Linked DNA regions of Homo sapiens: all the other regions are linked to region 5. Evidence: fine-mapped expression QTL. A gene starts in region 5. Each other region holds a variant in brackets. All regions are shown on one strand. Distances are from middle to middle. Region 1 has its middle 310 kb from the start of NSUN3. Region 2 has its middle 140 kb from the start of NSUN3. Region 3 overlaps ARL13B (ARF like GTPase 13B). Region 4 overlaps NSUN3 (NOP2/Sun RNA methyltransferase 3). Region 5 holds the start of DHFR2 (dihydrofolate reductase 2). Region 6 overlaps NSUN3 (NOP2/Sun RNA methyltransferase 3). Region 7 overlaps ARL13B (ARF like GTPase 13B).

The links. PIP is the estimated chance that this variant, and not a neighbour inherited with it, causes the effect. A credible set is the group of variants that fine-mapping cannot tell apart.
Region 1: its variant is the best candidate, but not a certain one, in a credible set for the expression of DHFR2 in anterior cingulate cortex (GTEx, PIP 0.78).
Region 2: its variant is the best candidate, but not a certain one, in a credible set for the expression of DHFR2 in whole blood (INTERVAL, PIP 0.69).
Region 3: its variant is the best candidate, but not a certain one, in a credible set for the expression of DHFR2 in whole blood (INTERVAL, PIP 0.66).
Region 4: its variant is the best candidate, but not a certain one, in a credible set for the expression of DHFR2 in tibial nerve (GTEx, PIP 0.88).
Region 6: its variant is the best candidate, but not a certain one, in a credible set for the expression of DHFR2 in nasal epithelium (TOPMed, PIP 0.63).
Region 7: its variant is the best candidate, but not a certain one, in a credible set for the expression of DHFR2 in naive CD8 T cells (Schmiedel 2018, PIP 0.68).

What each region holds. Positions count from the first base shown.
Region 1 is chr3:94,372,174-94,376,828 of GRCh38, reverse strand. No RefSeq gene overlaps it. Among named protein-coding and RNA genes, the nearest start is that of NSUN3, 310 kb to the right of the region's middle. The variant G/A (reference allele first, on the strand shown) is at 1,754.
Region 2 is chr3:94,202,020-94,206,674 of GRCh38, reverse strand. No RefSeq gene overlaps it. Among named protein-coding and RNA genes, the nearest start is that of NSUN3, 140 kb to the right of the region's middle. The variant T/G (reference allele first, on the strand shown) is at 2,078.
Region 3 is chr3:93,985,268-93,989,922 of GRCh38, reverse strand. All of the region lies in intron 1 of ARL13B (ARF like GTPase 13B), which reads right to left. It also overlaps the pseudogene HMGN1P7. Among named protein-coding and RNA genes, the nearest start is that of ARL13B, 7.4 kb to the right of the region's middle. The variant AGG/G (reference allele first, on the strand shown) is at 2,275.
Region 4 is chr3:94,121,766-94,126,336 of GRCh38, reverse strand. It overlaps NSUN3 (NOP2/Sun RNA methyltransferase 3), which reads right to left. Exons shown (of 6, transcript NM_022072.5): 6 at 1-126. Among named protein-coding and RNA genes, the nearest start is that of NSUN3, 61 kb to the right of the region's middle. The variant C/T (reference allele first, on the strand shown) is at 1,930.
Region 5 is chr3:94,060,726-94,065,380 of GRCh38, reverse strand. It overlaps DHFR2 (dihydrofolate reductase 2), which reads left to right and starts at 2,465. Exons shown (of 2, transcript NM_176815.5): 1 at 2,465-2,635; 2 at 3,775-4,655. The coding sequence starts at 3,870. The coding sequence ends at 4,433. NSUN3 (NOP2/Sun RNA methyltransferase 3) reads right to left here and starts at 2,320. Exons shown (of 6, transcript NM_022072.5): 1 at 2,243-2,320; 2 at 835-944. The coding sequence starts at 2,254. RefSeq lists an enhancer at 2,187-2,426.
Region 6 is chr3:94,091,420-94,096,074 of GRCh38, reverse strand. NSUN3 (NOP2/Sun RNA methyltransferase 3) reads right to left here. Exons shown (of 6, transcript NM_022072.5): 4 at 1,781-1,935; 5 at 921-1,042. Among named protein-coding and RNA genes, the nearest start is that of NSUN3, 31 kb to the right of the region's middle. The variant C/A (reference allele first, on the strand shown) is at 2,126.
Region 7 is chr3:93,997,313-94,001,967 of GRCh38, reverse strand. All of the region lies in intron 2 of ARL13B (ARF like GTPase 13B), which reads right to left. Among named protein-coding and RNA genes, the nearest start is that of ARL13B, 19 kb to the right of the region's middle. The variant G/AATAG (reference allele first, on the strand shown) is at 2,881.

The DNA.
Region 1 (4,655 bases), 310 kb before region 5:
TTTTTATCTTTTTCCATTAATTGTAATGTCCTAAACCAAAAAATTATTATAGTTAGAGTCTCAAGGGACCAAAGTATGTGACATGGTCTTATGTTTTAAAATGACAGTACAACTTTAGGGCAATTTTCAGAAAGAACAATACCTAAATTCCTTGCTGATCTTGAAAGACGATTACTTGCTTGCTCAGAGAGTAAACCAAGTTTACTATCTCATGTGAAAAACTGTCACTGATACTAATCTGAAAAAAATTTACATTAAAATGAGGTTTTATTTTAAATGAAATGAAACTTCATATAGAGATTATAATATCATTGGTTATATGATAATTAAATACCAATTAATTATTACAAAGCTAGCATTTGTGAAGTTAAATAATTATTTGGCAAGAAAGATTATGAAATCCAAATTAAAAACACTAAGAAACTTAATTTGTCAAAATTACCATAAAACTTGCACAATGTCTCTTTGGAATTAATGAGACAGAACTCTGTGTGGTAGTCACATTGCAGGGTAACTTTACGTATTTCTAATGTAATAAATGTGCTTTTATCAATTAAATACACAGCTTTTAGTATTTAGCTGGTAACAGCTATCTTGCTAAGTGACAAGAAATATATTCATTAGGTTATGTGATTTAATTTATTTATAAAATTTATTCTGCATGGTAGATGTTCAAAATAGCTGAACTCATTTCACCACATTTAGTACTCATTCAGAGAATGCAGCTCCTATGTTTCGCTTGAAACTTTAATCTTAATTGAGATCTTTTGGTTCAAGGAAAATGCATCTGTAGCCAGGCTTAAAGATCGTGGCTACCTGAGGAATATCAGAGATTTTCCCCTTGAATTATTCAGTAACTATGACTGTGTCAATCTGTACACAGTTTCAAAACAGGGAGGGTTTAAAACTGTCTATCTGTTCTAGCAGTCAAATACTAAAGCACAATGAATAGACCATAACAGCAATTTGTCAAAACTGCTTCATGCGGAATCCAAAGTATAAATGAATTACATATATGTAATATTGTTATGTGCTTTAAGTTTATTGATATATAATAGTTTCAATATTTGGGAGATACATGAAATATTTAATAAACGTCTATGTACAATATGTAATGGTCAAATCAGGGTAATTAAGATATCTATCACCTCAAACATTTACCTTTTTTATGTTCGAAATATTCCAATTATCCTTTTCTAGCTATTTTGAAATATGCAATAAATTATTATTAACTATATTTTCTCTACTGTACTTCAAATACTAGGACTTTAAATAGAATATTTTTGTTTGTTGTTGTTGTTGTTGTTGTTGTTGTTGTTGTTGTTGTTTGAGACAGGGTTTCTCTTCTGTTGCCCAAGGTTGTGCAATGGCATGATCTCAGCTCACTGCAACCTCCACCTTCCGGGCTCAAGTGATTCTCCTGCCTCAGCCTCCTGAGTAGCTGGGACCACAGGTGTATGGCAGTATGTCCAGCTAATTTTTTTTGTATTTTTTATAGAAACAGGGATTTGCTATGTTACCCAGGCTGGTCTTGAACTCCTGAGCTCAAGTGATCCACCTGCTTTGGCCTCCCAAAGTGCTGGAATTATTGATGTGAGCCACACCTGGCCTAAATAAAATTTTTTCAAACTAAAGATAAGAAATACAGGATAGCACTTTTTAACACGGGGCTGAAGGGCCCCTGGAATCATTGTGAAATCTGCCTCTCAAGGCTTAATTGCCAGTTCTGTTCCCATATTGTTTCCACCAAACT[G/A]CCTCAAGCCTTCCACCACCATCTTCCAAACTAATGCTCACCTTTCCATCCAAACTTACTGTTCTACCTCCTACTCTCCCTTCTCTAGTCAATGTAACAGCTAATCTAATTAACTACACAGCAGGAACTAAATCCTATGTGTTTACTGAAGTGGTGCTGCTCACATTCTAATGTGTATAGGAATTACCTGTGGATCTTGTCAAAATGCAAATTCTGATTCTATAGATGGTGTGAATCTGTGATTTTGCAGTTCTGTCATGCTCCTGGGAGACTCTAGAATTCTGCTTGTCCACAGTTTATACTGGAAATAGACAGAGGCTGCTATAGTTTGGTTTGTTTGACCCCTCAAATCTCATGTTGAAATTTGATTCCCAATGTTGGAGGTGGTGCAAAGGGGAGGTGTTTGGGTCTTGAAGGTGGGTCCCTCATGAATGGCTTGGTGCTGTTCTCATGGTAATTAGTAAGTGAATTCTCTCTGTAGCTCTATTAGTTCCTCAGTCCCTGTGAGATCTGGCTGTTAAAAAGTGCCTGATGTTTCCTCCAACCCCAGTTCTTTCTTGCTTCCTCTCTTGCCGTGTGATCTCTGCACACACCAACTCCCCTTCACCTTTTGCTGTGAGTGGAAACACACTAAATCCCAGAATGGAAGCAGATGCTGGTGCTATGCTTCTTGTACAACCTACAGAACCATGAGACAAATAAACCTCTTTTCTTATAAGTTTCTCTGTCTCAAGTATTCCTTTATAACAACACCAATGGACTAAGGCAGAGGCTAAAAGGTAGCTTTTTTCAAGTTAGAGTGATATCTTTCCCATCTGGTCCAAGGTCTCAGTGCTTCAGAAAAATGAAGATTGCTCCGCTTAATTCCAAACCTACTGAATTTGAATCTCTGAAGGCTGAGTCCAGGAATTTGTAATTTTAAAAGTCTCTATAGGTGATTCCTGTATACCCTAAAGCTAAATTACAGCTTCATCTTCAACCCCATTCCTAGGTCTTTATCTCATAGCTATGTTTTGAGAGTTACCTTCTATAGACAATATTCTCATCCAAAGGAGCAAACCAAATAGTGGAGGTAGTAAAATAAAATGACAAGTTAGGTAAGAAATAGTTTTGGAAGAGTAGGGCATTCAGTCAATGATATTATGTCTTTATTCTAAACAACAACAACAAAAAAAAAGTAACCCTTTTATTTTCTCTGATGTAGGGCACTTTAAATATTACATAAGCATTTCTTGCAAATAAAGTTCTCTTGTGCTGCCAGCAATGGTGAGAGTGTTTGCCAGAGTAGGTGAGTCTCTGAGTTATCTCAGTATTTCCAACTTGCCAATCTTCTCTTTCTGACATTGCTTCCATTTACCATTACTTGGCACCACATGGCAGATGCTAAGTCATTGCTGGTAATTACATGCTTCAGTAGAAACTTAGATCCAGCATGCTCAGGAGAGTGTAAAAGCTGTCATGAAAATTTAAAAATAGAATCTCAAGCATGTGGCCTCTCAAAAGATCTATATGCAGCTTTCAACATCAACATTTCAAAAGAAGTGAACATGCTCCAAACTGAGCAGGTTTCTTCTGAAAATGTAAAAATTAAATGTATCTAGGTTATTTTGTGCAAAATCACCAAAAAAGCCATAAATGAAATGACTTTTGAAAGAACCGCTGCTGAAAATACCCCCAAACATATATAGACTTCATTCAGCCTTTACTCTGCATTTACACTGCCACCCTTCTTCCCACAGGGAAGTCACTGACTAATATCAATTTTATTCACTTCCACAGCTTAGAAGTTTGCTGTTTTATAGATAGGTATGTTGAGTATACTGAGATATTTCTGAGGAAGTGATATGCTGAGTAGTATTTTTTGACATTACTTTGTGTTCTCCAGATGAACTCAATTTTAAGCATGGTATGTTTTGTTGCTCAAAGCAGAATCCAAGAGAAACTCAAGATTTCATAAATTCTATACAGAGTTATGCAATTTAAAACTTTGACATTTGTAGAAATGTGTAAGGATTCAAGTCAAATTTGGTTTATTCTAAATCACTCTGCCTAACCCTAGGGAAAAATCAAATAGAGAAAAAATTCTTTGATATCAGGGAAGAGAAATAGTCACTCTGTGTCTATATGAATACATATATAGTAAAAATGAAAGAACATAAGGGAGAGAAGGGTTAAAAGAGAAAAATAATTTAACTAAAATAGAACTCTGGTACATTGAAAACTAGAACAGCAAATTTTCTTAATATATTTGATCATAACTAAATACCTCTTTCACTCCTACTTATTTCAACTATATGCTTCATTTTATAAATGAAATGCTTTTTTTATTATCTGTCAAAAATAAAAATTCAATTTAGTTCTCACATACATGTGAAAAACTAGTAAATAGCATTGTAAGATGCAAAAGTAGGCAATGTGGAGAATGAAATTATAAATAAGAAACTTTACTCTTAAGATGATAGTCACAGTGTCGGGAGAGTACAAGGTCGTTAATAAGATAACCTTACAAATATGCATATTAATAATCAGGATATAAGTGATATAGAGGGGTAGAGAGTGCTAACAGGGCTCAGAGGAGTGACTTCATCAGGAAGGGGAGATCAAGGATTGCTTCCTGAATTAAATGCTTTGTGAATGGGACCCTGATCCTTGATGAATGGGACTCTGATGCTTGATTAATAGGACCCTGATATTTGTGTAAGATTTTGAAAGAATGAATTTGAAAATGAAGATCTAGCAGAAACTACAACAAAAAAGACAAAGGCTGAAAAAGAAAGAATGTGTTTGGCTGTATTGTGGATTTGAGTTCCTTTTGGGTTCATGGAAAGAAGAAGTTGAGATGTTGCTAATCACATGGTAGGAAGCCACATTGCAGAAGCACCTTAGTAAGCAGAGGACCCTT
Region 2 (4,655 bases), 140 kb before region 5:
TTTAAATAGAATGGCCAGGGTAAGCCTCATTAAGAAAATGACACTTGAGCAAAAATTTTTAGAAATGGAGGGAGTTAATCATTTGGAAATTTGAGAAAAGTATATTTCTGGCAGAAGAAATGAACTGAAAGACCAGTGTGTCTACAGTCACATATAGGATGAAGACAGCAGTAATAGATGAGTCAGAGTTGTAAAAAAGAGAGGAGTGTGCTCTTATAGGCCATTGTGAGGATTTCCCCTTTTAGTTTAAGTGAAATCAAAAGCCTTTAAAAGGTGTTGAGCAAAAAAATAACATAATCGCCAATGTTAATTAACAGGACCACTCTGGCTGATTTGTAGAGAATAGACTACACGGGATAAGGCATAAGCTAGAGACTAGGGTGCTGTGGCAACAGTCCTTGTGAAGGATGCTGGTGGTACGTATCAGAGAGATGGTGGCAAATTGTGGTGAGATTGGTGAGAAGTAGTTGGATTGCAGAGAGATTTTGGAGGTAGAAATGGAAGTATTTTCCTATTGAGTTGACTGTGAGAGCAAGAGAATAGAATGGATCATCGCAAGGTTTTGGCCAATGCCACAGGAAAGACAAAGTTGCCATTTTCTATAATGGTGATGACTGAGAGAGGTAATGAATATCATATCATAAAATCTGTATAGTAAAATATTCTGCTGTTTTGTGAATTTGCCTCTTTCATTCTAAGATTTGAGGTAATCTTTCCCTTTCTTATCATATAGTATTGCAGCATTCTTGAGGTAATTTCATATAATTCCATTTGTTTTTATTTTTATAGCCATTTTGTTTAGATAGGCCAACAAGATTTTATTATTCCCCATGTAACAGATGAGCTGACTAAGGCTTAGAAAAGCTATGAGATTAACCTAAGCCTCCAGTGTGAATACAATGGATTGTACACTGGAACACAGTATTTTGCCTCTTTGCTTGACATATTTTAAACCATATAATGCTTTCCAAGAATCAGGACAGTGCAGGATAATTTCAAGACAATGTAGTCCAAAACCTTATCATTATGCCTGAAGCAACTAACAGAGAATCTAAATAACCTTCTCTGGATCAGTCTGTTTTGTTTTTCAAATCTAGAAAAAGACTTCATATTGACCCTCTATTTTGGCACAGTAAATGACTTCTGTACTGTATTTTTTAATCAGAAAATTGCCCACTGAGGTAGAAAGAAAACCAGGAGAAAGCAATGTTCCAGAAGCTAGATGATGAAAGTCTATGAGAAAGGAACAACCTACTGCACCAAGAAGGAGGAGGCTGAGAAGTGGCCATTGCTTTTAGCGACATGACCATCACTGAGGACCTGGACAAGAACAGTTTAAGAGGAGAGGTAGGGGCAAAACCCTGACTGGGGAGCTTTAAAGATGAAGAGTGGAGAAAACTTGGAGGCAGCACGGAGTTTCTAGTAAACTGGAGCAGAAAAATGGAGCGAAGAGAAAGAGTAGGGTTTTTTTTCTTTTTTTTTTAAGATGGGGTGGGGAAGAAGAAGGTTTGTGTATAAATGGGAACAGACCAGTAAAGAGGAAATACATGGTGATGTGAGAGACGAAAGTAAGTATCATGGCAGTAATGCCCTTGAGTGAGCAAGAGGGATAAAATTTAGTGCCCAAGGGGAGGGACTGACATTGGAATAGAAATGTGTGTAGTTATTCTTCACAGGTGATAAAATTAAGCATGCAGGTCTAAAGCCTGGTCAGCAGGTAAGGGAGAAGTCTGGAAGTTATCTCTGGAGTGTTCTGAGTGTTCTGTGGAGTAGCAAACAGGTCATATGCAGAAAGTGAGGACGAAGGAGGATAAGATGGAAGAGAGGGAGAGAAAAAAGGTGTAACCCAGTCATGGAAAAGATTGAAAGAGTGAAATCCAGGGAAGAACAGCGCCATTTCCAGGTAAATGTATTTATTTACTTATTTTTAAATTTAATCAAAATGTATTTATTTACTTTTTAAATTGATAAATAAAAGTTGAATATATTTATTCTGTACAACATTTTGTTTTGAAATAGGTATACATTGTGGAATGGCTCAAGCGAGCTAATTAACATGCACATTACCACATTTAGT[T/G]ATTTCTTTGTGTGGTGAGAACACATAAAATCCACTCTCAGCAATTTTCAAGAACAGAATACATTGTTATTAACTATGATTATCATGTTGTACAATAGATCTATTGAACTTATTCTTCCTATCTAACTAAAATTTTGTTATCATTTGACCAACATATCTCCAACCTCCTTCCCCCAGCCTGTGGTAACCATAAGTTTATTCTCTATTTACATGAGTTCAACTTTTTCTACACTCCACATGTGAATGAGATCCCTTGGTATCTGTCTCTCTATCTGACGCATGTCACTTAACATAATGTCCTCCAGGTTCATCTGTGTTGTTGCAAATGATAACATTTTCTTCCTTTTTAAGTAAATAGTGCTCTATTGTGTCTACATATCACATTTTCTTTATCAATTTATCTATTAATGGACCTTTAGGTTGATTCCTTATCTTGGCTATTGTGAATAATGCTGCAATGAATATGGGAGTGCAAGTATCGCTTTAACATAGTGATTTCATATTCTTTGGACATAGTGGGATTGCTGGGTCATAAGGCAGTTCTATTGTTAATTTTTTGAAGAGATTCCTTACTGTTTTCCATAATGGCTGCACTAATTTATATTCCCACTAACAATGTACAAGGGTTCCCTCTTCTCCATATTGTCTGCAACACTTTCTTTTGTCATTTTGATAATAGGTATTTTCACAGGTGCAAGGTGATAGATATCTCATTATGGTTTTAATTTGCAGTTTCTGATGATTGGCAATTTTGAGCGTTTTTTCAAATATCTGATGGCCAAAGCTCTAGGAGTCAAAATAGCATAGCACTGGCATAAAAATTGACCCATAGAGAAATGAAGCTGACTAGAGAGCACACAAATAAATCCATGCATTTTTGGTCAATTGATTTTGACAAAGGTGCCAAGAACACAAAAGGGAAAAGATGGTTTCTTCAATAAATGGTGTTGGGACAACTGGATATTCACAAGTAGAAGACTGAAATTAGACCCTTATCTCACACCATATGCAAAAATGAACTCAAAATGGATTGAAGGGCCTGCTGCTGCAGGCTCCATGAGACAGCTGAAAAGTTGTGAGTGTTCAAAGTGTGAAAGATAGAACATCTGCCCCCAAACGCACATCCTCACTGGGAAACCTGAAGGATCTAATTATGGGAGAGGATTTGACCTTACTGGGAGTGGAGATGAATTTAGAGAGCTGGGAAAAATATAGGGGTAGAGGAAGCAGCAGGAAGAGCCCTGTGGGCACTCTTGTTCCCCAGTGAAGCTATTTCTGACTTTGTCTCACAAGGGTCCTTGGGGAGGGCTCCTAGTGGAATTAGGGAAAGACCACAGGGAGAAAGAAACTTCCAGCTGAACTTTGTAACAATTTCAACCAAAGCAAAGTTTCCTGGACCAAATCTCGGGGAGGAGGTGATCTGGGATTGCAGATAGGAACACAAAAGCCATAGCAGGCAGACAGGAACAAAACCTGAAAGTCCTGCTTGTTTTTTTAGCAAGAAGGCTTGTAGCCTGGGCCAAGATCTTAGCCTTCTCACCAGCTGCCTGGAGATAAACTTGGTGCTACTGGGGGGATATGGTGGGAGTGAGACTGACCTTGCTGACTGCATGGGAATTGGTGAGGCCTGTCCCTGCTGATTTTCTCCAACTACCCTGGCAACCTGTATGATGCAGCAGAGGCAACTCTAATCCCCCCTGGGAATGTAACTCCATCAGCCTGAGAACCACACCTCCCATCCCCCAAAGAGGCCACAACAAGTCCCCTTACGGCCAGCTTGTATCCAGCTTGTATCCTCCCTAGACCACTGTAACTGATGCTCTCTTGAAAGTGCCACCTCCTGCCTGGAAGCCAACCAACACTAGGCCAGTGCACTAAACAAAACCACAACCAAAGACCTTCTCAGAGTCCACTTCACTCCCCTGCTACCTCTACCGGAGCAAGTGCTGATACCCACAGCTGAGAGTCCTAAAGACGAAACACATCACAGGACCCTTTGCAGACATTCCCTAGTACCAGCCCAGAGGCTGGTAGCTCAGCTGGGTGGCTAGACAAAGAAAAGAAATAACAATCACTGCAGTTTTTCTCTCAGAAAGCCCCATCCTTAAGGGAAGCGGGGAGAACAGCATATCAAGGGAGCACCGCATGAGACAAAAGAATCTGAACAACAGCCCTTGAGCCCTAAATCTTCCCTCTGACATAGTCTACTCAAATGAGAAGAAACTAAAAAAAAAAAAAAAAAAAAAAAAATCCCAAATCTGATAATATAACAAAACAAGTTTCTTTAATATCCCCCAAAGATCACACTAGCTAACCAGCAATGGATCCAAACCAAGAAGAAATATCTTAATTGCCAGAAAAAGAATTCAGAAAGTCAATTATTAAGCTAATCAAGGAGGCACCACAGAAAGGTGAATGTCAACTTAAAGAAATCAAAAATATGTTATAGGATATGGATGGAAAAAACTCCAGAGAAATAATAGCATAAATAAAAAACAATCACAACTTCTGGAAATGAAGGACACACTTAGAGAAATGCAAAATACACTGCAAAGTCTCAACAATAGAGTTTAACAAG
Region 3 (4,655 bases), 75 kb after region 5:
TACTCCTAATATTATAGTCATCCCTGGGTCTTTGATTACTAGAAAGGCTGAGATACAAAGGACTCTGTAGTATTATAAGATTTACAGTATGTTATACTAGTAATAAGTAACATAAGAGGTATTATGGGTACTCTGAAATGTAGCCACAAATTTGGTGTTAGAGACCTGAGTTCAAGTGCCAGATTTGCCATTTCTAAGCTATATGGCACATTACTTTTCAGAATTTCATGAATGAAATAGGATAATAACAATAGCTACTCTAAAGGGATATAATGAAAATTAAATAAGGTTTCAATGAGCTGGGATCATGCCACTGCAGTCTAGCCTGGGTTGACAGCATGAGGCTGTTTAAAAAAAAAAAAAAAAATTAACCATAGCATTTTTCTGCTTAAAATCCTTATAGAGAATCAAGTCTCAATTTGGCAGCCCCCACTTCTGCCACTCCCAGGAAGCCTGCCATGCCGAGGATTCCTTCCATGCCGAGTACTCCTTCAGCCCTTCACAACCATCCCCGGCTACTTTTTATACAGGCTCCTCTACCAGAACTTCTCTTTATCAGCTCTGTAGTGCCTGTATCAAATGTGTTGGGCACACAGTAGGCTTCTTTACTGAAAGAAACAACAAACATTTTCTGAACCCCATTTGCTGAGTAAATACTAAGTAAAATTAAAATACATAACTTTAGATTGAGAAAGTACTATAATGAAGCTAATTTATATAAATCTTCACATCAAAATAGTTCATATTAAAGAATGTAATTATATCCATATATATCAAATTGGCTGAAGTTTTCTGAAAAAGCTTACATGCTCATGGTTTCAAGGTACTAATTAACAGAAAGACTTTCAAAACTGAAATAGGGGTCTCAGCAGCTCGGGCAGCGGGAGGAGTGCCAGTAGCCAGGCAGCCCAGCTTCGCGAAGGCTCTCAGCTCCGTGGCCCACAGGTGCCCAGCAAGTGCCCCTCCTGCCGCCAAGATGCCCAAGAGGAAGGTCAGTTCAGCCGAAGGGGTGGCGAAGCAAGAGCCCAAGAGGAGATCTGCGCACTTGTCAGCTAAACCTGCTCCTGCAAAAGTGGAAATGAAGCCAAAGAGGCATCAGGAAAGGCTAAATCTTCAGATTAAAAAAAAAAAAAAAATGCAAACAAATGGGAAAAGGGGAGCATAGGGAAAACAGGCCAAAGTGGCTAACCAAGAAACTAAATAAGATTTACCTGCAGAAAACGAAGAAACTAAAACCGAGGAGACTCCAACCTTTGATGAAGCAGGAGAGAAAGAAGCCAAGTCTGATTAATATCATATACCATGTCTTATCAGTAGTCCCTGTCTCCCTTCTTGTACAATCCAGGGTATTTTTATCAACTGCTTTGTAAGTGCAAGTCTTTTAGTAGCTCTAGAAACATTTTAAGTAGCAGGAACTCCCACCTCATTCCATTGTTAAGTTTTTTCTGAGGTGAAATAATTCTCTGGTTGTTTATTTTTTGGTGAAACCAGAGAATAGTATGGGATATTGAATTACAGGAAGTTTTGACTGTCTTGGATGTCAGCTTAACATTCCACAGATGGGGGCTTAGTTTTTATATACTGTAATACAAAATATACTAAATGGCAATACAGAGTCAGAATCCTGCATTTAATGTCTTGAACATTTTAAATTACTTCTATTGCCATGTTTTTTTTTTTTTTTCACAGAATTGTTTCCTAAAGAAAACCACTCCTTGATCATGGCTCTCCCTGTCAGAACTGTGTACACTATAACATCTTTGGTCACAGAAGTCCTGATTTCCTAATAACTGTGTTAATGTGCTGTGAAAGATTGAAAATTTGGGTATATAGTGTACATGCTATTAAACTGTGAATTGGTAGAACGTGTACAGCTTATCAAACACTTGTAGATACTGGCTCTTGATAATCCTCTTAAGAAAAATTTGCCTCCAAATGTTAAGTTGGAATGTCACTATAATAACTATTTAAAAAAGAGGCCGGGTGCAGTGGTTCACACCTATAATCACAGCACTTTGGGTGGCCAAGGTGGGAGAATTACTTGAGCCCAGGAGATTGAGACATGCCTGGTCAACATGGTGAGACCTTGTCTCTACAAATTAAAAAAAAAAATTAGCCAGGCATCGTGGCATGCACCTCCCAGTTACTTGGGAGGCTGAAGTGGGAGGATCGGTTGAGCCCGGGCAGTCAAGGCTGCAGTGAGCCGTGATCACTCCTCTGCACTCCAGCCTAGGCAATAGAGAGAGACCGTTTCAGAAAAAGGAATTACAATAG[AGG/G]TTTTCTAGATTTTTGGTATGTATGTTAAGAATTGTGTACAATTTGAAATGTCTGTATACTTATTCTCAACACGACAAATAAAATCTCCATTACAAAAGAAAAAACTGAAATAATTCTTAGTAAAAACAAAAAAAAATCAAAGGTAGAGATTAAGGGATCCAAAGGTCTGTTTTACATCACTTTAGCTATCTGCCGAAACAAGTGAAGACTTCCATACTCCAGAAGCTAATAATTAATATTGTTCAAGTCAACACAATGTATATAATAGATCTCCTAAGTGAGAATATGAGAATATCTTATCTCAGAATTCCTTTTTATATAACGGATATACAAATTAATATATCAGAAATACTGGTCAGGCACAATGGCTTATGCCTGTAATCCCAGTACTTTGGGAGGCCAAGACAGGAGGACTGTTTGAGCCCAGGAGTTTGAGACCAACCTGGGCAATATGGTGAGATCCTGTCTCTATTTAAAAAAAAAAAAAATCAGAAATATAAGCATCATGGCATTAGGGAGGATTGAACTTAGAAAACATTTAAATTCTGAATCTTTCCTGAATGACATTATCACAATCATTTGAACACCTACAAGTCTAAACTTCCTCATCTTTTAACTAAGGAAGACAATACTTTCAATATGATAATTAGATAAAAGCTATTCCTTTTTTTTTAGAGACGGAGTCTCATTCTGTCACCCAGGCTGGAGTGTGCAGTGGCGAGATCTCCACTCACTGCAACCTCTGCCTCCTGGGTGCAAGCAATTCTCCTGCCTCAGCCTCCCAAGTAGCTGGGATTACAGGAGTCTGCCACCATGCCTGGCTAATTTTTTGTATTTTTAGTAGAGACAGGGTTTCACTATGTTGGCCAGGCTCATCTCGAACTCCTGACCTCAACTGATCCATCCACCACGGCCACCCAAAGTGCAGGGATTACAGGTGCGAGCCATCATGCCTGGCCCATAAAAGCTGTTTCTAACTTCAAAAATATTATGCAAGTCAAAGAAAACATTTCGCTAAAAACACTAAAATCAAAGTTTGACACATCGGAACTCTATTATCTACAGTATTTAAAACTACATGAAGCAAATTCTAAATTTTAACATAAACATAAATTCTAAAAGTAACAAATACATATACAAAAAAAGACTTTAGAACAAGGTTTTATGATACATATGTGAGAATTTTAAAAAATCACTATACGACAAATTGATAGAAAGAAAAAAATGTATCGAAAAAACAGTGTGATTTTATTGCAGTACACTATTTTCTGACATTTCAATTCAGATCTAGAACCCCATATTACAGCAAAATCATTATCTAAATTTACTGAGTATGAATAAATAGTGAGAAGGCCAAGCTTGGGTTTATAGCCTGCTTTTAAGCCCTGATCAAGTCAAATTCTTAGTGTCCATTTTTTCATCTCTAAAATATAAGGGGGTAAAATAAGAATGTCTCTAGGTCCTTTTCTATATTAAAATTCTAAAATTCTTACTATGCATAATCAAGAAGAACTAGGGGGATAAAAAGAGATGTAAAATATTCCAGTTCAGCATACAGCACAATAGATAATCCTTGCTAATCTGTACATACAGCTTAATTGGAAAATTAAGAACTCAGCAATTTCTATAAATGGTCTAGATTTACAGTTATATTTATTTAGGCCAAGAATGATGGTATTAGGGAGCTAAGTATTCCCTCAGTGAAAAAGTTCATAGCAAAGAGGACAAAACAGACCACTAGAAACATTGTGTACTGTATCTTATTTTAGACTTGGCCACAGCAAACAATTTACTAATAAATTTGAAGTAAAGCTTTGATAGGTTGTATTTGTGATGCTGAAAAAACACAGATGGACAAGAAATCAGTTCCAATTAAAGGTTAACTCTGTGGAAGAATGGTGGGAGATGAATAGGGGGCAGGAAGTTTCAAGGATTTGTTACCTACTTATTAAAATAAAATTGAAATATGATGACTAAAGATTAATATTTATAAAACCTGGCAGGCATATGGTACTTATTATATCTTTCTTTTTGGTTAAATAACAGTAAAAACATTTTTGTTAGTTATGTATGCATAATATATAAGAAGTTATATAACATGTATATTTTCATATAAACAAAGAATTTTGTTGCCAAAATTTGTATGCAAAATTTGTTGCATGAATTTCTTCAAGACCCAGGTAAAATTACACCCCTTCTAAAATCCTCTTTCCTGATTCTCATTAAAAATCTTAAAAATCATATTTCAACTCTTGCATATTCGATCATTATATTTTACATGCACTATTTCATCACCTAGATGCTATGTTATAAATAACAGGAGCTCAAAATCTGTAGATGAGAATGTGTAAGGGTTAGAATCTGCTATAAGGCCCAGA
Region 4 (4,571 bases), 61 kb before region 5:
TCCATAGGCATGATGTTACCGTGGGAGTTTAAAATTTCACTGATCACATCTTGATTTTCTGCCTTGGAAAGCGTGCATGTAGAGTATACAAGTATCCCTCCAGGACGTAAGGCCTTAATTGCAGACCTGTGTGCAATCAGAAAAATGCAAAAGATTAGTTAAGTATATTAAAAAGAAACCAGGGGGTCTGACAGCAAAGATTACGTACTTAAAACTAACCTTACTCTGACTTAGACTGCAATTACTTTGGATGTTTTCTAGTCTTTTTTTTTTTTTTGAGACAGAGTCTAACTTTGTCACCCAGGCTGGAGTGCAGTGATGCCATCTCGGCTCACTGCGATGACTGCCTCCCAGGTTCAAGTAATTCTCCTGCCTCAGCCTCCCAAGTAGCTGGGATTACAGGCGGCCTCCACCATGCCCAGCTAATTTTTGTATTTTTAGTAGAGACGGGGTTTCACCAAGTTGGTCAGGCTGGTCTTGAACTCCTGATCTCAAGTGATCGCCTGCTTTAGCCTCCCAAAGTGTTGGGATTACAGGCGTGAGCCACTGTGCCCAATCTCTGATCTTACACCTATTTCTTTCTAACTTATCCTTGAAGACTTGGAAAATGATAATCAGACCAATCAACATGGAAAAGATAGAGTAAGTTAGACTGGTTGATTGCTATTCAAAAAGTAGGAAAATAGGGGTAGAGAACAGAATAATGAGTTTGTCTTTAAATCGATGGGAGTAAAAATAAAAACAAAGCATACATATGAAAGCATACATAAGAAGTCATTGATTCCATACTTCCAATATTGCAATTTGGGCAACCAGGTAAAAAGTTGGAAGGTTTTTATCTAAGAAAATTGAATAAACTATTTGTGAAGACTTCTAAGGCAGCCACTATGGGTTTTAGACCCCAAATCAAAGATCTCTGCATTCTACCATGAAGAGAGCCTCCAGAGTAACAGTCAGCTCTTCAGAAAGTTGTATCACCAGATAAAAGGTCTCGTCCTTAAAATACACCTCTAGTACTTTTATTGTCTCATTATTAAATAAAAATGTATAACCAAGGATTGCTAGATAATTAAAGATCAGAAATGCTTAAGCAATATGTAAGAGAAAGAACAAAATAAACAATAATGACACAGGAAGAAACAGAAAATTCAGGGAACAAAAGAGAAATATGATCTATTAAATGCAGACAGATCAGCAAAGATACAATATCCATAACAGAATGCCATGAAAAAGGATCAAGAAGAGAGTTCTTAGAAACTAAATATATGGTTACCAAAATAAAGAATATTCTGTAGAAGTATTTGGAAGTTAAGGTTGAAGAAATCTCTCCACAAAAAGTACAACAGTAACAGACTGACTGAAAATGAGACAAGGTGGATCAATTACATAGGTTCAAAATCCAATTAATAGGAGTACTAGAAAGATAAGACACTCATTATTATTTATTGAGCCTCTATTATATGCTGAGCATTGTTCTAGGTGGTAAGTATATCTCAACAGACAGAACAACAACAAAAAAATCTTTCACCTCATGAAGCTTACATTCTAGCTGGGGGACATAGAATATAACAAATTAAATATGTTTTGAATTAAACTGTGTCCCTGCAAAATTCCTTTGTTGAAGTCCTAACCCATAGTGCCTTAGAAGGTGACTGTATTTACAGACAGGGTCCATAAAGAAGTAATTAAGTTAAAAGTAGTTCATTAAAGTGGGCCCTAATGGAATATGACTGGGATCCTTCAAGAAGAGGACATTTGGTCACAGAATTACAGGGGAGGACCATATAAAGAAGACGCAGGGAGAAGACAGCTATCTACCAGCCATGAAGAAGGACCTCAGACAAAACAAATCTTGCTGATGCCTTCATCTCAAACTTCTGGCATCCAAAACTGTGATTAAATAAACTTCTAGGCAGGTGCGGTGGCTCA[C/T]GCCTGTAATCCTAGCACTTTGGGAGACCGAGGCAGATGGATCACCTGAGGTCAGGAGTTCGAGACCAGCATGGACCACATGGGGAAACCAGCCAGGTGCGGTGGTGGATGCCTGTAATCCCAGCTACTTGGGACGATGAGGTAGGAGAATCACTTGAACCCAGGAGGCAGAGGTTACAGTGAGCCAAGATCACACCACTTCACTCCAGCCTGGGTGAAAGAGTGAGACTCCATCTCAAAAAAAAAAAAAAAAAAAAAAGAAATAAAATAATAAAATAGAAAATAAACTTCTATTGTTTAAGCCACACAGTCTTGTTATTTTGTTATGGCAACTCTAGCAAACTAATATAAATATATACACACATACATAAACATACACATATACAAAGATAAACATATATACATATACACATATACATACATACATATATGTACAGGTTTGCACATTTTTTTATTTAGTATGCAATTTAGTGATAGATAACTATGAAGAAAATAAAAGCAGGATAAAAGGATTAGGAGTGCTTGGATGAGAGGGATTATAATTTTAAATGGGACAGTTAGAACAGTTTGCCATTTCAGAAAGTGACATTTGAACAAAGTTCTGAGGAGGTAAGGGAGTGAGCCAAGCAGATATCTGAGAGAAGAGCATTCCATACCAAAGGAATAGCCAGTGACAAGACCTTGAGGCATGTTCAAGGAAAGCGGAGGTCAGTGTGGCTGGAGCAAGGTGAGCCAGGGGTGGTAATCTGAGACGAGGTGACAGAGTTAAGAGGAGGGGGTGGAGAGGGTCTTGATGAAAACTGTCAAAACTTCACCCTTATAATGAATAAAAAACACCCACACTTAGATCCATCATTGTTAAATTTTTGAACTTCAAGAACAAAGAGGTGTTTAATGCCTCCAAAGAGAAAAACAGGTCACCTATTACGAGCCCAGGAATCAGACTGGTATCAGTGGAGAAATACATTCCAAATCCTAGGAAAAAGCAATTTAAAGTGAATTCTATTTGCAGCCAACTCATAAAATAAATATGTAGCAAGAATCCAGAAACTTGCAGATATCTCATGACTCCGAAATTTTAATTCTAGTAAAATGAGGAAATAAAGCAAGAAAGAGGAAAAATGTAATTCAGAAAAGAGTGCATGCAACATAGAAGAGCAGTGAAAGGAGTGAAGCCTCAGAGTGAGAGCTGCGTGGGAGGCCTGGAAGGCAACTACTGCAGTCTGGAAAAAGAGGGAGCTCTCCAGAAGGAAGGGAGAAGGGAGAGAAGTAAAAGAGATGAAATGACTGAAAACTGAGAAAAACTTGAAGATTTGGTATACATAATTGGGAGGGAAAGGGAGAGATCAACTTGTCTCATCTATCTGATTCTAGAAAAAATGTTTCAGTGGTATTCTGCTCATGAGATTGAACCAAGAGACAAGGAATTTTAATTCTAACATATTATTCCATTATGCAGTGGACAATATTTATAGAATTAAACAATATACACCACTTATGGGTCTTCAATGTTCAGAATTACTCCAAAGACCAAACTTACTATTGTTACAGAACAGATTTTAAGGTCTCAGAAAGAATATGATCAACCTTGACAACATGAAAGTACAGCTGTAAGATACTGGGAAGTAGAAGGGAGAGAGAAATGGAAGGCAGGGTGGGCGTGTAAGTGTTCTTATTTTATAAAAATAAAAGGCAAAAGACATTTGCCTCTAATTATTTTTTTAAAAGAATAAAGATAAATGAAGAAAAAAAGACAAAAAAGGTGTGATGTGTATTTAAGAGAACTTTCCCCCACTAATAGAATAAGAAATGTAGGTCTAAGTGTATGGTACTAAGTTTCAGAGCCGACAGAGAGAAACTGAGTACAGTGTGAGATTGCAGGGTGCAGGGTAGTGTGATGAGGGAAGGGTGGTGTAAGTGACATAAATCCTTGGGATAGGGCAGTAGTTAATGTCTAATTTTTTGACAATTTTAGAAAATGAATAAACGTATTATTTAGAGATTTGGGGGTGACCTGAAGAATGAATTAGGAACCAAAATCATTAGAAGCAATTGCCTCTGAGGACTAAGACTGGAGGAAGAGAGGAAGAGTTGCAGGGGAGCAATCCTTTTCACTAGGAGCTCATTTGTAGTTTAATTTTTTACCCATCTGATTTATTTCTGTAATACAAATTAAAGGGGAGATTTGACAAAAGAATAAATATCAGAGCTTTTGCCATGGAGGTCACTTAAATTGTTTTTTTTTTTTTTTTTTTTAGGTGGGGGGATGAGTCTTGCTCTTGTTGCCAAGACTGGAGTGCAGTGGTGCAATCCTGGCTCACTGCAACCTCCACCTCTCCAGTTCAAGCAATTCTCCTGCCTCAGCCTCCTGAGTAGCTGGGATTACAGGCACCTGCCACCACGCCTGGCTAATTTTTGTACTTTTAGTAGAGACGGGGTTTCACCATGTTGGCCAGGCTGGTCTCAAACTCCTGACCTCAGGTGATCCGCCCGCCTTGGCCTCCCAAAGTGCTGGGACTACAGGCATGAGCCACCACGCCTGGCCAGTTATATGTATTTTTAAAAATTTTGACTGTTAAGGGATAACCTCTCTAGAAAAGGTATTCCCTGAGGTTCCAGATAACTAAAATTTTATGGTATCC
Region 5 (4,655 bases):
TCTTTTTGTCAAAGTAACTCCTCTAAGTCACCAAGACCCAGCTTCCCTTCAGGCCTTTGCTGGCACCCTCAGGCTTTGTTAGATACTTGGATCACAGTATTTACAAATTAGTTTATATAGTTGTAACCACACCCATCTCCTCACTTCTCCCATTAACACTAACTAGACGGCATGTAAACTGGACATGCAGACTGTCTTGCTCTGTATTCCAGAGAGGGTTATATAGTGTATCAGGCACTCAATGTCAAGAACCCATACAGTAATCCATACATTAACATCATCTTACCAAACAGACAAATCACATTTCTCCCACTTCCATGCATTAAACATTCCTTATTTTTATATTTAAATAATTTTGTGTGTATATGCACGTGTTCAAAATATACCCAGCCATCGACATAGGAAAGAAATATGATTACCAAATAAAGTGTACCTTTGGCTGAGATAAAGCAGTGCTGGCTTTAAAGATTTGTTGTATTATCTTCTAAATTTCAGAAATCAGTCAAATATTCCAAATTTTATGTTTTTTTCTTTTACAGTATAATTAATTTTGTCAAACTAGTGGGCATTCCTATTTCAAGGATCAAAGTAATTGCTCAAAGCAAAGGCGTAACAATTTGTGCTTACCATCCCGACAAAGTTTTATTTCCCCTTTCCAACATGCTATGATTCATTCTATTTCTTCTTAGTTGTTCCTTTCTATAGCTTCAGTAGGAAAAGGCAACCAGATTTAGATTCCTTTGCCTTTTAACCTCACAGCATCCCTCCCACAAAAAGGAGGACTACATATTGTACTTTGTTCCATCATAAAGCATCGAGATGAATTATACTAACCTTACTGTATTCCAGGCATCTCCGAGTTCTTTGGAATACTGTTTTTCAAAATGATCCAACACAACTTTGCAAATCTGTTTTGCAAGCTTCCCCTCTGATTTTGCTTTCAGCTATGACGATAAGAAAAAGTTGCTGACACACAGTGATATTACAAATTTACTGAACGTCAACATTAGCAAGGTCTTTTTTTAAGACAAGAACACTTTTTTTGGATAATTACTAGTTCTTGAAATGGAAGCAATACCTTACATGTACCAAAACTGTACATTATCTAATTATGAAAAAGCAAGGTTTTTCCAAATAATTATTTTCCAAATGTGAAGCAAAGGTTAAAACAGAATCTACTGGGGCTGAAGAAACTGTCAAAAGGAACAAAATTAATTTTAAAAAGTCACTGTAGGGGCTAGGCAGGTGGCTCACACCTGTAATCCCAGCACTGTGGGAGGCAGAGGCGGGAGGATCACATGAGGTCTGGAGTTCAAGACCAGGTTGGCCAACACGGGAAACCCGTCTCTACTAAAAATACAAAAATTAGCCGAGAGTAGTGGTGGGCGCCTGTAACCCCACCTACTCAGGGGGCTGAGGTGGGAGAATCGCTTGAACTCAGGAGGTGGAGGTTGCAGTGAGCCGAGATCGCGCCACTGTACTCCAGCTGGCTCATGCTTTGCAGGGACGAGGCGAGAGGATCATTTCCCAGTTCAAGACCAGACTGGAAAACATATCAAGGACGTGTCTCTACAAAAAGTAAAAAAAAAAAAAAAATTAGCCAGGCGTAGTGGCCTGCTCCTGTAGTCCTAGCTACTAGGGAGGCTGAGGCTGGAGGATCGCTTGAACCCAGGAGTTCAAGGTTACAGTGAGCTATGATGGAGCAGCTGCATTCCAGATTGGGTGACAGAGCAAGAACTTGTATCTAAACAAAACTAAAAAGTCACCGGGGATGCTGACATCAAGAAAAATTGGTGAAAGGTATTTGAGAACTCTGTACTATCTTTGCAACGTTATTTTAAAGTGAAAAGTTAATTTAGGGAGAAAAGTCACTCCAATTTCATCGTGAACTTCCTTGCAATTGTTTCATTTATTCATCCAAGAAACGTGTATTCAATGCCTACTATGTAACAGACACTGTTCTAAGCTCCCGGGATACCGCTGTGACACAGAAAACAAATCTCAGCCCTCCAAGAGCTGGAGGGAGTGGGTACTAGAAGTCTGCGAGCTGGACGGAAGGGACTCAGCATTACAGCACTCAGCATTATTTCAGGGCTTGACAGTAAAGCCAAAGAAACGCTGATCTCGCGAGGGGACGAACAAAGGTGATGTTCCCCCATCCCAGCACCCTCCCTCGCCACCTCGGCCGCGTCCAGAAGCGTCTCATTCAGATAGAGGTACCCAGCCGGGCCCCAGGTCTCACCTGGGTCAGCATTGTCCCGCTGAGAGCTTTCAAACAACAGGTGTACGCGAATCAGTATCAAAAAGCCTCCAGGGAACTGAAAAAAACAGTCTGACTTCCGGGATTCGCGGGCATCCACTTTCATTCTCACGTTTCCTCTTCAATTTCTCGCGAGATACTGATTTGCTCGCGCTATAGAATTCTTGTCGAAGAGGCTTAGCTCCCGCGGGAGATTTCGTGCGCAGTTACTTCCGGTAGCTGGTAAAGGCTGATACTTCCCAGGACGCGGAGGTAACGGGCCAGGGCCAAAGCGACTTTCGCTACTTGGATTGGTCGGCGTAGCTTTGGGCGGCCGGACCTTAGAAAGTCACACATCTGCGCGCCTGTGCGGCCCCTGCTTCTGCGGATGCTGAGGTGGGAGGATCGCTTGGGCAGAAGTTTGAGGTTGCAGTGACCCGTGATCGCGCCACTGCACTGCAGCGTGGGCGACAGAGCGAGGCTTTGTCTCAAAAATAAATAAAAAGTCGCATATTGTGCTGAACAGTGTGTATATGCATGGGGCTCAATAAAGGAATGAGTTTTGGGGTTATGTTGTATGATGACTGATTTAAAATATTCTCAAAGCGAAGCTAGTTACTGACTTAATCTACCAAATCTAGTGACCCCTGTTAACCTAGACATTCAGTACCCAAGGATAAAAGGGTGGAATATAATGAAAAAGAAATTAAGTCATGCTTTTCCCCAGACCTGGCCCATGGGGATAATCTCTCCTTTTAATGGAGAGTGTTAAACTGAAGTAGGCATGTAAAGCGGTTACAACAGTGATTAGGAAACAGTAAATGCCCAAATGTTAGCTGCTATTATTTTCACTATTGTGATCATTGTGATTTTTGTCGCGTTGATACCAAATGCGTGAAGACCAAAAGGACCCTCCACTCTAGCCTCCCCAATTCACCTTTACAAGGGAGCAATGTTTAATGGTTCTCCAAGGAAGATGTTTATTACACCTATTTTGACACGAATAGAAGTTTATTTGCTCTTTTGGTGTCATGCTTCAGTAACTATCATTTGTAGCAGCAATCAGCAATTAGAAAAAACCGGTTTGATATGGTCCCTGATAGTTAATAATCATCATTTTGAGTTGTTCCTTGATGCTCATATCAATATACGTACATGCTATAGGTACAAGTCTTATATTCATGTAAAAACATGTCTTTCCTTCTAATCTGATTTGAAGCTTAATATATTTATTTATTTAAACAAGTTTCCAAGTCACCTAAAAAATGCATCTTATTAGAATTTAGATTTGGTACAAAAGACTATGATAATCAGGAATGAAATGATGCCATCTCTTGGATGCCGTCTGTTTAATGTTTGTGGAAAAGTCGGTCTAACCTTTCAGCCTCTGTATTTTTTATAATTTTATAAATTTATATTTTATAAATATTTTATAAATTTATACTTTATAAATATATTTTATATAATTTATTTTTCTATGTTCATTCCAGAATGTTGCAATTAATTAATACAGTGGTATTGTATTTGCAATGTAGGCACGTAAAAAAATTTGAAGAAGGGAATTTCGCGGCATTCTTGGCCTGGCTTCCTGGCGTAGCCAGCAAGTTCGGAGGTGTTAACCGCTGCTGTCATGTTTCTTTTGCTAAACTGCATCGTCGCTGTGTCCCAAAACATGGGCATCGGCAAGAACGGGGACCTGCCCAGGCCGCCGCTCAGGAATGAATTCAGGTATTTCCAGAGAATGACCACAACTTCTTCAGTAGAGGGTAAACAGAATCTGGTGATTATGGGTAGGAAGACCTGGTTCTCCATTCCTGAGAAGAATCGACCTTTAAAGGATAGAATTAATTTAGTTCTCAGCAGAGAACTCAAGGAACCTCCACAAGGAGCTCATTTTCTTGCCAGAAGTTTGGATGATGCCTTAAAACTTACTGAACGACCAGAATTAGCAAATAAAGTAGACATGATTTGGATAGTTGGTGGCAGTTCTGTTTATAAGGAAGCCATGAATCACCTAGGCCATCTTAAACTATTTGTGACAAGGATCATGCAGGACTTTGAAAGTGACACGTTTTTTTCAGAAATTGACTTGGAGAAATATAAACTTCTGCCTGAATACCCAGGTGTTCTCTCTGATGTCCAGGAGGGGAAACACATCAAGTACAAATTTGAAGTATGTGAGAAGGATGATTAATATGAAGGTGTTTTCTGGTTTAAGTTGTTCCCCCTCCCTCTGAGAAAAGTATGCATTTTTACATTAGAAAAGGGACTTTTGTTGACTTCAGATCTATGGATAATTATTTCTAAGCAACGTGTTTTTATTCCTCACTAATCTTGGCTATATCAGATACCATTTATGAAACATTCTTGCTATAACTGTCTCTCCAAGACCCCGACTGAGTCCCCAGCACCTGCT
Region 6 (4,655 bases), 31 kb before region 5:
ATAATTTTGCTTTAGTGGCCAGGCGTGGTGGCTCACGCCTGTAATCCCAGCACTTTGTGAGGCCAAGGTGGGCAGATTACGAGGTCAGGAGTTCAAGACCAGCCTGACCAACACAGTGAAATCCTATCTCTACTAAAAATACAAAAAAAAAAAAAAAAAAATTAGCTAGGCTTGGTGGCGCACACCTGTAATCCTAACTACTCAGGAGGCTGAGGCAGGAGAATAGCTTGAACTTGGGAGGTGGACGTTGCAGTGAGCCGAGATTGCACCACTGCACTCCAGCCTGGGCGACAGAGTGAGACTCTGTCTCAAAAACAAACAAACAAACAAACAAAAAAATTTGGTTTAGCATTAAACAAGAGAATTACATGGGAGTAGGGCATATGTCAAAATCGCTGTTGGAACCCGAACAATAATGTTTCAAAATGGCTGTGTTCTTAATGAAACCAAATGTTCAGTGGCCAGGTCCTTCTGGAAAATTCTCAGAGGGGAGATAAGCGCTAACAACCAGCTACAACTTGCTAGGGGCTGATTCATCCAGAACAATAACAAAACATGCATCCTGATTCAAAGCTATTCCTAAGGGGCTGCTCAGATTCTGGTAAAAGAAACAGGGCTATGAACCCCCAGGGTTGGGTCCCAGTGAGCAAACAACTTTGAACTACAGTAAAATTGCCTATGCCCTTTAAAAGACAATGCACAGCAATACTACACATCACTGGGGGTGGAGGGAGGGGCGGTGAGCATTACAGTATGAGCGATAAAGGGGAAGAAGTTGGGAATTTTTTGAGTGTAGCCTTTGGAGGAATAATCATTGACACCTACACAGCAAGCCCTCCACTGGGGGCCTGACATGTTCTATTATGCCTGTGTAAATTACATCAGACACCAAAATACACTTTTGTATTAACAGTCCTTACCTTAACAGCTCTATCTGTAGAAGAGGCAAATTCCTCCTTTGACTTATCCTACAGGATGCCTTCTGAGAGTCAGAAGAAAACAACCAGCTTCGATCATTTGAACACGGAGCATCCACTAACACCTAGAGAAAAAAAAGACAAGTGATGCAAATATGCACTGACAATCTATTCTCAGGCACGAAGTAGATAGAGAAGTTCTCTAAAACATGGTAAACAAATAGGAAATAAGTAAAAACATTTCTTTTTTAACTGAAAATACACCACAGTAGGTTTTTCCTTATGACATTTCCTCACTAACACTTTTCAGAAAAACTTACCATGTACTTTCAGTGTTTGTTTTTGGGGGCTTAGGATGGGAGAATTAAAGTTTACTAGGTCTACTAATGCTATTTGATATCCTTGACAACCACAGCAAAAATTTTTACAAAAGTTACTCATTGTAATCAGACATTAATAATATTTCTGAATTCTCAGCACTTATTTCTAAGAACTAATATTTCAACTTCAGCTTACTGAAATAACCTCTTTTTCTTCAACTGTCATACTCTGATATGAAATGTTACTGAATTAAAGCAATACAGTACTGACCCAAATAATATCCGATCTTTTCCTGAGTATCTTTGAGTTACCTGCCAATATAAAACATTCTATAATCCTCAATCCCAATGTTACTGCTTCCTTTGAACCATGCTGACCATCAAATGAAAACTGCTTCCATGTTCACTTTATCAAAATTTTCCAGGGTACTGAGAAACTGTATCAGGCTATGTCTGAGAACAGATGGAAAATAACAACCACAAAGCAACATAATAGTGGTATTACTGGGCGTCCATCAGTTTGTCACAATGTAATAAAAGTACCTTGTCAAACATTTCAGGCTGGGCATCTCCCATTTTTCTGCCATCCAATTCAGACACTTTAATTACATTTATCAAAGGCTGTGGGATGAAAGATTCCAACGTCTGCCTTAGCCACCTCAATCTCAGACTATCATATTCATTACAATGAAGATAACCTAAATAAAAAGGATTAAAAAGTTTCAAATGAAGGCAATGGAACTGTTAAATTTCTACTTTTCAGCAAATAAATTTCAGAAAGAAATTAACTCATCATAATTATGCAGAAATAGGGCTCAGAGGTAAACATTATTATTTTCTTATGCTTTAAAAACAGAAATAAGGTATATGTGTATGTATATATAGATG[C/A]ACATACCTACTACATAAAACATTTACAACAGTCATGCCTACACAGTCTCTCAGAAGCTCTCAGCATTTGCTCCACCAAGTTTAATTTTATTAGAGGTAAAACCTATAAAAAATTATAAATTCCTAAAGATATGTTATACAACCAATACCTCAGACATGGCTCTCACTCTAAAGAACTAACGCTTAAGAGTAAACACAGGTGGTAATTCAGGTGCAAGAAGATGAAACTCACATTGCGGCAGACGCAGGAACTGTCCTGGCTTAAAAGCTTCCTGTCCCACAGGAACCATTATTCCTTTTAAAAACTCCACAGGCTTTCAGTGTCTCCACAGGGACATGCCCAGTTATAAGAATCACTGCACTCAGAAGACCCAAAGCATGGCACCTCTATCAGGTCTCTAGGGGTTATTTATTCTTTCTCCCAGCCCACATGCAGTTTACCAATCAGGGTCATCTTTATCATAAGCAATCTTGCCTAGATCATAGTGACAATCTCTGTCAGGTTACCAAGGCAACAATACTAGAGAACTAACTGAACATTACAGTTTAACGTAGAAGGGAAAAAACATTGTAAAGCCTTTGCTCAAATACATACATACATACATATACACATACATATATGTATATGTATGTGTATATGTATTTTAACAACTCCACAGGCTTTCAGTGTCTCCACAGGGACATGCCCAGTTACATATTTTTTTTTTTCTGATTGTCATTCCACTGTTAAAAAGTAAAAAAAAAAACTTTTAGTGACTTCCCATCATCCACTGAGTAAAGTTCAAATGCAGAGTCCTTAAATCAAGGTCCATAATAGCCAGACCTCAGGACAATGTTTCCATTTTAATCTCCCACTATTTCCCCAGTATACTCTGTGCTCTACCAAACTTGATGGACTACTCCATTTCCCAAACATACTCAGTACTTCTCTTATTTATCTCACATGAGAGGTGTTTCTGTGTATGGCTTACCTTCTCTACTACGAGGGCTCCATATTTCTTTTCTTTTTTTTTTTTTTTTTTTTTTTTTTGAGATGCAGTCTCGCTCTGTTGCCCAGGCTGAAGTTCAGTGGCATGATCTCGGCTCACTGCAACCTCTGACTCCCAGGTTCAAGCGATTCTCCTGCCTCAGCCTCCCAAGTAGGTGGGATTACAGGTGTGCGTCACCACGTCTGGCTAATTTTTGTATTTTTAAATTTTTGTATTTTTAGTAGAGACGGGGTTTCGCCATGTTGGCCAGGCTGGTCTGGAACTCCTGACCTCAGGTGACCTACCTACCTCGGTCTCCCATCGTGCTGGGATTACAGACATGAGCCACCGTGCCAGGCCCAGGGCTCCATATTTCTATAGGGAAGACACTCAGGAGATGGCATCAATTTTGTTGAGAAGAGGAGTAGAAAATCATCTTAAAGCACATCTGTACAGCTAGTTTTCATGTTTATTTTGGGTGTCTTTTGGAGGACTCACTAATGGAACTTAAATAGGTGTCTAAAAGCCCTCGTCTTAGCTTGAGATCACTAGAAAACAATGTAAGACAGAAGTTCATGGTATGGACAGGGTGCAATTCTAAGGAAGCAAAAGTGAGAGAAAAAAGGAAGTAAATCATGGAAGTAGCATGATAGATACAGGAGGATTTGTAATCAAGCTGCCTAGAGCTTTGGTCAGTCTCTCAGGGCAACTCTACAGTTTGAAATTACAGAGCCTTCTCAGGAACTGGAGGTTAGTGGAGGAAGGAGGAAGAACAATCTGCTGGCTGCTTTTTGTCTCTTTCTCTCATTGGTTAAAGTCCACAACAAGAGCTGGTAACTTCTACCAACTTTGGGGTTGTGTACCTGACCCCTTCAGGCAACTGCTAAAAAAAACCAGACAGTACCCAAGGCCAGGTATTGCAAGCATACAGGTGAGGTGATCTCTGCTTGTCACCTGGCACTCATTGGGAGGCTCTTCAATTTGTGGCAGTGGTAGCATTAGCAGAAGATAACTGCATGAATGGCATGAGCCTTTGCTAGGGTTTCTCCAGTCTCTGGAAACAATTCAAGTGGCTCCAGCCACGAGGTGAGGGATGGGAGTAAAGATGAAGCCAAACATATCTGTAGTGATGCATAAGCTGGGTCCACAAGATAACCCCCAAAGTCACCCCTGCCATTGTTCACCACTGCCTATCAAATACTAAGGGCCTCAGAGAAAAGAGGTCTTACTCACCTTTCATTCAACTTTCCTCTTTTTCTAGTTTAAATGTTTTACATTCTATTTTGACTTTTCTAGTGGTAACCCAAAAGACTTTTAACATGCACGTGTTAAGAAAAATCTAAGCTAAGTCAATTTTCACCAACTTTCCTAAAAGATACAAGAATCTCGTAACACTCTTGCTTTAGATGCTACTGTTATTGTATATCTGGGTTTTCTTTTGACTTACATTTTTGGACACCACAAAACATTATCATGGTCTTATATAGCCAATGATGGTTAGGCACTCCCCACATAATATCCCACCTTTGCTATTCATTTTTTTTCTAACTCCTATCTTCCAT
Region 7 (4,655 bases), 63 kb after region 5:
TACTTTCATTACCTAGAAAAAGAAAAAGGTAAAGTTAGACATATAAGCAGAATGATTTTCCAGAAATAGGATTATACTAGGCATTTAAAAATGTGATCTAAGCTTAACCAGAAGTAGTTTGTGTGGATAAAATAGGCAGCTGTCTTTCAGTATGAATAGAGAGGAACCCCAGGCAATCATCAGTGAAAACAAATCAACTATGCTGAAGTAGGAATAAGGGAACTAACATGTATCAAACACCTCCTTGGTACCAGGACTTTGTTAGGCATCAAGGGTGCAAAGATGAGTAAGATATGATTGCTGTCCTCAAAGTACAATGTAATATAGAGAAGTGGAATATTAATAGGAATAACACAGAATTTGTATGTTCTTTAAAAAAAATAAGCTAGAGACGATAGTGTGTAGGAATTCAAGGGAAGGAAGGTGAAAAAGGGAGGGGCAAGTTATGGTCTAGAAAGGCTTTCAGAGAAGAAATAAAATCTTGAAATGAAGACTTCATTGTGAGTGAACACATAAAAGCTACATAATTGTAACAGAGAAGGGAGAACTATATTTTAGGCAGAGGGAGCAATTTAAGTACAGATAAAATGATGGCAATATGCCCAGTAAACCAATTCAGATTAAGGATTTTTTTTCAAGGTTATATAGCAGGCAGAGACAGGCCTCAAACAGAGGTCTTCAGGACTTCCAAAGCCTGTTTCTTTTGATATATGGAACACCTTCTATTCTTTCCTCTGGTTCCTATTCAGCATTTGTGTTTCACAACTTAAGACTAAATGTTCAGGTACAACTTTCCCCATAAATCCTTTTTTGATGATTCCTCCTACTTCTACTATCACCTTTACCTCTATCATAATATTCTGTCCTCTACTGATCTTCACAATAGCCTATACCTTCCCAACACATGGGACTATGTCTTTGTATCCTTAGCATTCAGCACAAAGTATATAGGGCTCAATACTACACCACCAAACCACTGAGATAACTGAAGCTCCTGTCCCATACATCCACCCTTTCTTTTTTCCTTTCATGTATTTATCCATCTATCCTCGTACATGTATTTAGGGCCCATTATAGATGATAAATCATACAAGAACCAGGAATACAAAGATACATGGTCTCCAATTGAGAATTTCAGTAGAGTATATGTGGTAAGACATCATCTCTAGAAAGTCCAAGATAAAATGCAAATATACAATCAATAAATTTTTGAGCATTTCTTATAAGCTAAGTACTATGCATGGTTCTAGAAATACAAAGATTAATAAAATCCATCTTCTGATCCCATAGAGCTCTTAGTCTATTGGGGAAATATATATATATACATATACACACACACACACACACATACACAAATAACTACATATGAAACATAAATATATATATGAGTAACTATAATTTTTTTGTTTTTTTTTTCCTCTTCACAAATCACAAATAACTACAATATAATGAAGACATGTTAATACCCAACAATGCTAGGGACCAGTCCACGCAAAGAATTTTCGCACCAAAAATAACAATAGTTCCCTATTAGGAAACACTATCTGATAGTCAAGAGAATCCTAGATTTTTTTTTACCTAGGCTCATGACTGCTTACAACAGACCATAATCCCCAACTACTACGGCAGCAAGGGGTGGCCATGAGGGGAGGCTAGCCAGTGATGTGTTGTTAAATATTTGGAGGAGAAGAACCCTGATACATGTATGGTATCTGCCAATTTCCACAGTATAAATACTTTGACCATGGCCAATTTCAAACTAACAATGTGAGGTACCTAAACATAGAGTTGGGAAGAGATATGCATAATCGGCTCTCACTAGTTGATATGAGCCAATATGAAAAGCAGGTCCAGAACACCACTGCTTCTAGTCATGATGTGAACTAAAATGATGCAGCAGCTTTTGGTTCAGCTCCTAAAGAAAAGGAGGATGGCCTCCCCTTACCCTTTACCTCTTCCTTCTAGCTGAAATGCACATTTTGTAGTGAACTACCTTCAACCATGTAGGTGAGGGAGAACACTGGGGATGGCAAAGCAAATAGAACAAAGAATTGAGGACTAACACGATGGAGCTGACAAACCAGTCCTAGACTACTTTTGCTTAGGCTGTTATGAGAAAGAAAGAAACATCTATCTTGTTGAACCACTGTTATCTTAGGTCTCTGTGAGAACAATTGAACCTGTGTCCAACTAATGCAATTACTGACAACCATGAAGAAGAGAAGTTTGATTTAAAGAAGTAAAGTTCCAGGAAGGGGTGTTACTTTTATATTAAGAAGCTATTGTGAAAAAAATTTAGAAAGAATGAATAAAACCTAGTATTTGAAAGCACAACAGGCAGACTATAGTCAATAATAATTTAATCGAACATTTAAAAACAACTGAAAGAGTAACGCAAAGAATAGATGTTCAGGGAATAGATACCCAATTTTTCATGACGAAATTATTATGCCTTGCATGCCTATACAAAAATCTCATGTACCTCGTAATATATACACCTACTATGTACTCACAAAATTAAAAATAAAAAAGGGAAAAAAAGCTATTGTGAATAAAAAAATTAGCTAGGCATTGTGGAGCACACCTCTAGTCTAGCTACTCTCGAGGCTGAGGCAGGAGGATAGCTTGAGCCCAGGAGTTTGAGATTACAGTGAGCTATGATCACGCCACCGAACTCCAGCCTAGATGACAAAGTGATACCCTGTCTCTAAAAAACCAAAAAAATATGACCAGGCTCAGTGGCTCATGCCTACTATCCCAACACTTCGGGAGGCCAAGGCAGGAGGATCACTTGAGGCCAGGAGTTCAAGACCATCCTGGGCAACATAGTGAGACTCACCTCTATAAAAAATTATAAATAAATAAATAAATAAATAAATA[G/AATAG]AATATGAATTAGAAAAAAGCTACTGTGACATCATAGATAAAAGAAACTGAGGGTTTGGATTTAGCCAATGGCAACACAGTCAGAGGAGAGGTAGACACATCTGAAAAGAAACTAGCAGATAACTTTTTCTCAATTTCACACGGAAATAAAAAAAAAAAAAAGAAGGCTGAGAAGTCAGAAAAGAATCAGAAATAAGTAGAAAAGTAGGAGCCATGAGAGAGGTGTTTTAAGAAGACCTAGGCGCATGGCCTAAACAATTGTGACACCAAAATAAGCAAAATGCCTTTAGAGAATTTACAGCCTGAAGAAAAAAGATACACAAACAAAATGTAATTAAGTAGTGACCAAGTAGGTATCAGGAAGAGCAGGCCAAAAAAGTGGACATGATCAATTCTACTAAGTAAGGTAGTAATTGGGGCAGCTGGGAATTAAAAAGGACTTTATAAAAGAGGAGACTATACGACAAAAATACATCTTTAAACATCAGTAGATATTCTCTCTAGTTAGGTAAGTGAGAACAACACAAAAATATAAAGGAAAGAGAAGGCTTACATCTGGGAAGTTTCAAGTAGTTCTAAGAAATTATAGTCCTAAAAAAATTTCAAAGTAAGAAACTGAAGAGTAAATATGGGATGAAGGACAAAAAGAGAATGGGGAGTGGGGCTCGAAGTTGAAGGCAGCTTTGACATTAAGCATTTTCTAGACTCAGAAAAAGGAACTTATGAATATATGGAGGTGGAATACATAAGAGAAAGAAAGGAAAGAGGATGTTCTAAGTACACCCAGTATACATAACAAATTAGGTAATCTGATTAGCACATTCTAAGGTGCCTGCTCCCATGAATGTCAGGCTTTAGAGGAATGGATAAAAGAAGGTTAGAAGAAGGTGTCATGGCCTCCAGGTCAAATCTGGTTTGCCACTTGTTTTTGTATGGCCCACAAGCTAAGAATGTGTTTTACATTTTAAATGACTAAAAAAAATTAAAAGAAAAATATTTCCTAACACATGAAAATTATATTAAATTCAAATTTCAGTGCCGGAAATAAATTTTCAGTGGAGCTTGGCCATGCTCATTTGTATACGGATTGTCTTCTTTTTTTTTGAGACGGAGTCTCACTGTTGCCCAGACTGGAGTGCAGTGGCGCAATCCCAGCTCACTCAACCTCCATCTCCGGGGTTCAAGCAATTTTCCTGCCTCAGCCTCCTGAGTAGCTAGGATTACAGGTGTGTGCCACCACACCTAGCTAATTTTGGTATTTTTAGTAGAGATGGGGTTTCGCCATGTTGGCCAGCCTGGTCTCGAACTCCTGTCCTCAGGTGATCTGCCCACCTCGGCCTCCCAAAGTGCTGGGATTATTACAGGTGTGAGCCACCGTGCCCAGCATGTATGCAGATGGTCTATGGCTGCTTTCACACTACAGTATAAAAATTTTGTAGTTCAGAAGGAGACTGGATGACTGCAAGGTCTAAAATATTTACTACTCAGCTCTTTACAGAAAAAGTTTGCTGACCACTAGTTTAAATAATGATAGTGAGTGTCCTGTGAAGATATAACGTAGAAGATAGCATAGACATAGGCTTTAGAAAAAATCATAGACAATAACAGATAATTTACTTAACATTACAGAGTAGCATTTGAGGTGAGAAAATGTTTTTTTCCAACAGTGAGTTTTGCAACCTGTTAATTAATAAATGCCCTTCCACTATTTAGTAAGCATGATATCTTACTGCAATCATCAGTTTCCAGAAACAAATACATGTTATGCATTTCTC